2 linked regions of the Homo sapiens genome follow. The protein of the gene in region 2 binds, or shares a complex with, the protein of the main gene of each other region. Links are inferred from orthologs where the notes say so. Each region holds a gene or a part of one and is shown on either strand. Other genes may lie near its edges.

Region 1 (3,749 bases), on a different chromosome or scaffold from region 2:
GCTAGTCTCAAACTCCTGACCTCATTATCCACCGGCCTCGGCCTCCCAAAGTGCTGGGATTACAGGCGTGAGCCACCACGCCCAGCCACTTGTAGCTTTTCATCAGAGATGCCAGAAGTGATTTCTTTCAGTCTCCAGCTTGAGATGGGGTATTAACTCCTAGTACTTATAGTAATAAGTAGGTGTTATTTAAGTAAAAGAATCATTTATGCATAGCAACTTTGGCCTCTTTCTCTCCCGTGAGTGATGCATTGGTGTTTACAGAATATAAAGATGAAAATCTTCGTTAGATGAAGGGAGTCAAACTAGGTTAGTTCTTTAATGTTTTCATCAAGGAACAAGTTTATGGAGCAAGAGAGATAGCAACTGTCTATCCAACTTGCATCAGCTTACCAACCACACACATCCAATAACAAAAATCCCCCAAACTTGCCCTTCAGAGAAAAATCTTTTAACCCACTTTACTCTTGCACTGACATAGAAATGTGGTTAAGAAGTGAATGGTGGAAGAGACCAGAATATACTAACTTTCTTAAATGTCAGTTGGCTAGTATCCAACTGATAGTAATTTTAGAGAAAGTAACTTTCTAAGCTTATTCTTTCTTAAGGTACTATAAGCTACACTCAAATATGTTTGAATGCCTTCTTACATTTTGGAACAGCCTGAGAGTCACTTATGGAACCTTCTTAGAACATTTTTATGAAAGCTGTTGGGTTTGTCAAGGTTTATTTTAACTCAAAATACAATAATTTTATGAGATCACTTGTTAATAGCTAGTTGGCATTAGCAGTTGCACAGATAAACTCCTATTTGATCACTCCTTGACTATGGTTAGGATATACGATTTTCAGGTGGCATTTCTTTAATTACCCTGTGGATTGCTTGTTGCAATTTGACCCAATGTACATGACTTTTTTTTCTATTGGAAAATTAACTCTAGTGTTCATATATAATGTTTTACTGTGTACTTTTAATATGTGTTTTAAAACAAGATAGTGTATATTTCTTCTTCCCCCCAATTTAACAGATTTGTATTTTATAAACGTTTATACATATTTCCTTGGGGAAATGACCTGCAGATAAGAAATAGATTTCTGTTTATGAGAAAACAATTATTTAAGCTTATGTGTCGTTTTCAGAAGCATTCTAAAATTGCCTTTTTAATTTGTGAGGAACTTTCTCAAACATGACCTTTCTAGTGCTGAATGAAAAGTCATTACCTGAAAATGACTCCCCAAAAAGCTGGAGATTATTTAACTTGTTGTGAGCCCCAGCATCATAAAAGTGAGATCTTTGTCTTGGAAAATAAACAGACTAAATCTTTTTTAAAAAGCTTTTATTTTAGGTTTAGGGGTACATGTGTAGGTTTGTCATGTAGGTAAACTGCCTGTTGCAAGGGCTTGGTGTACGGATTATTTAGTTACCCAGGTAATAAGCATAGTACTTGATACCTAGTTTTTTTCTGCTCCTTTTCCTCCTCACACCCTCAACCCTCAAGTGGGCCCTGGTGTCTCTTGTTCCTCTCTATGTGACCATGAGTTCTCATCATTTAGCTTCTACTTATGAGTGAGAACACGCAGTATTTGGTTTTCTGATAAACAAACTAAATCACCGTACAAAACGTATTGAGATGTCCCTATGAGTCCCTCCCGCCTGTAGGGTTCTGTATCATAGGATCCATGCACTCAACTTCATACATAAAGCAAGGACTTAAGGAGAGCTTCTCCAATACCACCTTTTGCACCATCGCTTTCTATTCAGAGATGACAGAGGCAGTATTTTAACAAGATTAAAGGAAAGTTTTAATAGCTTCATTTAAAAAGTTCTTGTTTTTCCACAGTATCACAACTGTTTTCATTTTTCATCCACCTGTTTGTTCTTTGTCCGTTTGACTAGTCGTTTTTATCATTGTAATCACGACATCCTGTGACTGTGCTCATGAGGTCTGTTTATTTCCACTTTACGTAAACTTTTCAAAATGACAGTTATTTCGTACTCGCTGTCGCCCGAACGCAGACGGGAGGACACTTCAGGAGCAATCGACCCGAAGGAAAAGCACGATCCAGGCCCCGCCTGCCTCGGCTCCACCTTCCCCGCGCCCGTCCCCCAGGGTCTCGGCCGCGGGACCCCGCCTTCCAGGCCCCGCCCCGCTTTTTCCCTGGCCCCGCCCCGGCCCGTCGCCATGTTGTTCCCTCCGCGCTGGACGGGAGCAGCTGGAGCGGGAGCCTGGCTGCGCTACCGCGGCTGCCTCCTGCTGTGCAGGTCCCCGACCCTCTCTCTGTCCTCATTGCGCCCAGACGGGCCGGCCCAGAGCTCCCGGGTCGTCTTTCGTGTGGCCGCGAGGTGAGCGGGACTCGGGACTCCTTCGGGACCGGGCGGAGTGCGCGGGTGTCGGGGTCTGAGGGGGCGGCTCGGGCCTCGGGCAGCTGGGGCGGGGTGCGGTGCGCGCGGGGCTAGCGCGGGTCACAAGGCCGCCCCGGGAGAGAGGACGGCTGGTTGTCTCCCTGCCTCCTCTCTGACGCAGGAGGAAAGACGGTCCCCACACCCTTGGGGAGAGGGACTCACAGAAACACACACAAACACTGGAGAAAGGGAGATACAAAAGCCCGGACACCCGTGCACATACACACGGAGAAATACACCCGGTCACCTGGGAACACACGTACACGCCAGCCTTTCCCCCAACCACTCCGGGACACACATCCACAGACCCCAAACCAAATCCTACACCCGAATGATTAATGTAGGGAAAACAAAGGCGCTCCCATGACTTGATTTTGGCGACCTCTGAAGTTCCACCTAGCAGAACGTGTTTGCTCGATGTCTTACGACCACTCGGGTGAGGAATTCGGAAAGTAAAGCCAATCTTAGAGGCTGCAGGCGTTTTGGGGGCATTATCTGATTCAGACGCTGGCTAACGTTTCACAATCGCGTTCCCTTTTTTCTTCCAACTTGGTAAGTAAAAAGGCAAAATGAGAAATTTAAGTGCTGAACTTAATAAATAGTTGGTGGACGTATTGCTTTTTTTTTTTTTTGGTAAGGGATGACACATCTCGTGACTACAGTTCTTTTGAGGAATAACTTTTCTGCTAGTTTCCAAATCGGCACGTGACCACAATCTTTTCATAGGATTTTAGCGTCCTGATAAAAATCAATGGGCAGAATTTGATTGCTTCTTTAAAAATGTGTTTGTCCTTCGGTCTCTGGCACCATTGTAATGGAAAATCCCTACATTGCCTGTACTCTCAGAAGCTGTCCAGTGTAGCAAAACTAGAGATAAAGAAACCTGGAACGATTCAGTTAGGAACTTTTAAGAAGCCAGCCTTTAGTTTTTCCTTTAGAAGATTATGAAGTTATCATGATTGCTTCTCTAGAACTTTAGTAGTTATTTGGATTCCTAAATCTAAGACAATGCTGTGGCAGTCTGGTGCTTTTAGTATTTTTGTGTCTGCTGTGGTAAATTCCTCGTTTATACTACAAAGTTTCTCTTCTGGAGACTTTTGGGATCTGGGCATATTTTTTCGTTTATTATTTGGAATGTTAGAGTAGATAGGCAAACACTAAGTAGAACATCATTGGCTTTGACTCCAAGCCGGGTTTTAGAGATAAGGGAAATAATACCTTAGTGCTATCACTTCTTTTCCAACCTCTCTCATCTCTTTTTGTTTCTATCTCAACCATTTCTTCTGTCTGGACTACAGTACTCTGGAGGCCTAAAGAGAAGATCCTTGAGTTCTCGAAATTATTT
Region 2 (3,749 bases):
TCAGTTTGCAGCTTGTAGAACAGGGCCTGGCACATAGTAGATGCTTGATAAATATTTGTGGGAGGAAGGAAGGAAGAACGGAAGTGGGGGAGAAAGAAAATAACAGAGGGAGGGAGAAAGTTTTCTTCTAAGAGTTGGCAGAAACTGTCTATCCTGGTCCCTGCTATTAGCTGAAACTTCCTGAAGTACAGCCCTAAGCAAAACCCTCCCTTGCTCATAAATCTTCTATAGCTCCCCATTATCCACTATGGGAAGTTCAAATGGCACAGCCTGGCACATACAGCCCTGCACAAGCTGGGACTAATGGACCTTTCCTGCCCCATTTCCTTCCCCTGCACATGCCTGAAGCCAAGCTGTGTTTCCAGGGACTTTTCTGAAGCTCATAGCTGCCCACCACTGCCCACTGTAAGCCAAGGTCATGAGGCCATCCCCCTAGATCTTGGCAACATGAGGTTTGAATCCTGACTTCTCCACGGACTGACAGTGGGACCTTAAAGCGAGCTGCATAACATCTCTCTGCCTCCAGTTCCTCATCTATCATGGAAAGAGATGATGGTTCTCTCCCTTAGGGCTTTTATGAGGAGTGAAGGGGATAATGCTCAGAAAGTTCATGGCACAATGCCCAGCACAGAGGAAGCCAGAAGCCCCCAGCAAACACGTAGGAAATTAGGAATGCCTAATTTTTCTTTTCTTTTTTTTTTTCTTTTTTTGAGACGGAGTCTTGCTTTGTCACCCAGGCTGAAGTGCAGTGACGCCATCTCAGTTCCCTGCCACCTCCACCTCCCGGGTTCAAGCGATTCTCCTGCCTCAGCATCCCGAGTAGCTGAGATTACAGGCGCATGCTACCACACCCGGCTAATTTTTGTATTTTTTGTAGAGATGAGGTTTCACCATGTTGGGCCAGGCTGGTCTTCAACTCCTGACCTCAAGTGATCCACTCAGCTTGGCCTCCCAAAGTGCTGTTACAGGCATGAGCCACCATGCCTGGTCATAATTTTTTTTTTTTTTTTTGAGACAGGGTCTCGCTCTGTTGCCTTGGCTGAAGTGCAGTGATGCGATCACAGCTCACTGCAGCCTCAACTTCCTGGGCTCAAGGGATCCTCCTGCCTCAGCCTCTCAAATAGCTGTGACTACAGGCATGCACCACAATGCCTGGCTATTTTTATTTTGTTTTCTGTAGAGATGGGGGTCTTGCTATGTTGCCCAGGCTGGTCCCAAACTCCAAGCCTGAAGTGATCATCCCACCTTGGCCTCCCAAAGGGCTGGGATTACAGGCATGAGCCACAGTGCCCGGCCAGGAATTGCTAATGTTATTACATAGTCCAATCTCTCTTCTATGGCCTAAGTCCATTTTACAGGTGAGAAACTGAGGCATTCTGGGGAAGTTTCCCCTAAATGACATGGCTAGGGAGCCAAGACTTCGTTCCCTGCCCCTGCCCACCCCCACCCCGGCTTTAGACTCCAAATATGCATTCAAGACAATCTAAAAGCAGTAAGAATGAGTTGTTCAAGAACAGTACATTCGTATCAAATTAGCCTAGAGAAGTGAAGGGCGCAGCAGGTGCAGGATGGGTAGGGTGAGCGGGGAGCAGATTTTCCTGCCTTAACAAGAGTTATTCTGGGCTGGCCACTTCTTTGTGCTCCTAGTGGTGGTGGGCTGAGGGGGTGTCTTGTGTATTGCAGGAATGTGAGCAGCATCCCTGGCCTCTTCCCACTAGATGCTGATAGCACCCCCAACTGTGACAACCAAAAATGTTTCCAGACATTGCCAAATGTCCCCTGGAGTAGGGTTGCCAGATTTAGCAACACATACTCATACTAAAAACTTACTCACTGTTTATCTGAAAGTCAAATTTAACTGGGCGACCTGGATGTTATCTGGCAACCAAACCTAGGGACGGGAGACAAAACTGCTCCCCTTCATTAAGAACCACTGGGTCACAGTAAAACTGCAGGGTCCCCATGGTAACGTCAATTGCTTCTCTCGTTTTTCTCCAACCTTCTTAGCAAGTCCTGCCTGCCTCTCCCATCTCATCACCCCTAACCCAGAGGCTGGGAGGCTCAGTTCTCCAAACAGGCTCTGTTCAGCAGCTATGATGATGGCTCCCCAATTACAGCCCTTCCACCAGCTCCGGTCGCAGAGCTAAATGTAGCTTCCACTCCAGGACCTGCCTCATCTCCCTGTCTCCTTCCTGGGGTCTCATCTGCCTCCCACCAGCCCCTGCATTCTCCCCTCCAATTAAGAGGCTTTCTAGGCCCAGCCCAGAGGCAGGAAAACAAGGCAGTTAGTCACTTTGCTTCCATTATCAACTGGCATCACATGGCTGGCTCCTTTAATGGCAGTTGTTATGGCAACGGGAAGCCAGTCCCTGCTCGCTCTGGGAACCAAAACAAAATTAAGGGTTGGCAGGGAGGGTAAAGGAAGCCAGGAAGGAGCCAAGATAGAGCTGGTCAGATTTAACTGGAGGAAATCACGCTGAGGCCACCTTGTTTCCAGCTTTCTCTTGGTGGTACCGAGGACAGAGGGAAAAAAAAAAAGGATGCTTGCCCTGGAGGAGCTCAGGCTAACGTGGTGGGTGTTCTCGCAGGGTTTATCTTGCCAGCTGAATCATTTTCATCCCCATTATGAATAAACGGAAACCCACACACTGATAAAGGTAAAGACAGATCTTGTCTAAGATTGTGCAGTGAACAGGCCAGCAATTTCAGCTCCATCACCTTCTTTCCCTGTTCTCGATGTCCTCCCCATTCCTTTCCCTTGCTTTTGGGATAAGACCACATGTTCCGCCTTCTCCGCATCTGCACCTTTCTCCTTTGTCTCTGCTCCGGTCACTTCGGTTCCTTCAAATTCACAGTGTTCCCTCCAGCCACAAAGCTTCTGCATGTACAAAACCTTCTGCCAGGAATGGTTTTTCTTAGTGTCTCTCAACCCTCTTATCTTCACCTTAAAGTCCTACTCATCTTGCACCTGTCTTCTGAAACGTCATATCCTGGGCCCCTGCACATGGTCAGTTGTCCCTGTTTTGGGTTCTTGCAGCCCCGGGTGCCTCTCCTTCACATCTCTGTTCACAGCCTGTAATTATCCTTGTAATTTTGATAAGGTAACTGTTGGGAGTGTGTTTCCTCCGCTGCAAGGTCAGCCCCAGGAGGACAGGGACAGGGCCCATCTACAAGGGGCCTGTCCCTGCTATATCCACAGAACCTAGCCCAGGGTCTGACACACAGCCCTCAGTAAATAAACACATCTGGGGTTGGAATCCAGCTCTAGTTGAGCCCAAAGTTCTTCTTGACCTGCCTCATGGGTGCTGTGTCCAGCTGGCTCCCCAGGCCAGCACTGGACAGTTTCCAGCTCCCAGCCTCTGTTGGCCCCTTCGTGGCTGCAGTGGCTCTGGCAAACCTTGCAGAGCTGCCCAGCCTATCTAGAGATGTCGATTGTTAAGGCACTCCTTCTAGAAAGAAGGCTGGGGAAACAGATGTACACACAGAAGACAGATATACACACAGACACATGTAGATATGTGTACATACAATGCAGTCTCTGGGTGAGGCTGTGACAGGCAGAGATGTGGCTCCTTTGAACCCAGAGAGTGGGGAGGAGGGAGATCTGATTTGACTCTCAGATTTCTAGGCAAAGAGCTTTCCCTTCTGTTCCACTAGAGACTGGCTCTCTGACACTGAGAGAGATGCTCCCCAAAGAGGTAAGCAAAGGAAGGAAAGGACAGGGGAGACGTGCTTTGGGGGGCACCGAG

Evidence for each region. The genes of interacting proteins can lie anywhere in the genome.
Region 1: the proteins of SGSM1 (region 2) and RAB9A are in contact, whole or in part, in a crystal structure (PDB 4QXA), measured with the Mus musculus proteins. The link is inferred for Homo sapiens from one-to-one orthologs. Residues at the interface, in NP_766306.2 of Mus musculus: Leu256, Leu257, Tyr258, Gly259, Lys260, Asn261, Asn262, Tyr277, Asn294, Met297, Asn298, Gln361; in NP_062747.1 of Mus musculus: Phe37, Thr39, Ile40, Gly41, Val42, Glu43, Phe44, Leu45, Trp61, Arg68, Phe69, Leu72, Phe76.

What each region holds. Positions count from the first base shown.
Region 1 is NC_000023.11:13,686,945-13,690,693, forward strand, and holds the start of RAB9A (ras-related protein Rab-9A), read left to right. Parts: upstream 1-2,183; 5' UTR 2,184-2,344; intron 2,345-2,462; exon of another isoform or gene 2,463-2,956; intron 2,957-3,749. UniProt on the Homo sapiens protein: The small GTPases Rab are key regulators of intracellular membrane trafficking, from the formation of transport vesicles to their fusion with membranes.
Region 2 is NC_000022.11:24,809,131-24,812,879, reverse strand, and holds part of SGSM1 (small G protein signaling modulator 1), read right to left. Parts: intron 1-3,749. UniProt on the Homo sapiens protein: Interacts with numerous Rab family members, functioning as Rab effector for some, and as GTPase activator for others. Promotes GTP hydrolysis by RAB34 and RAB36.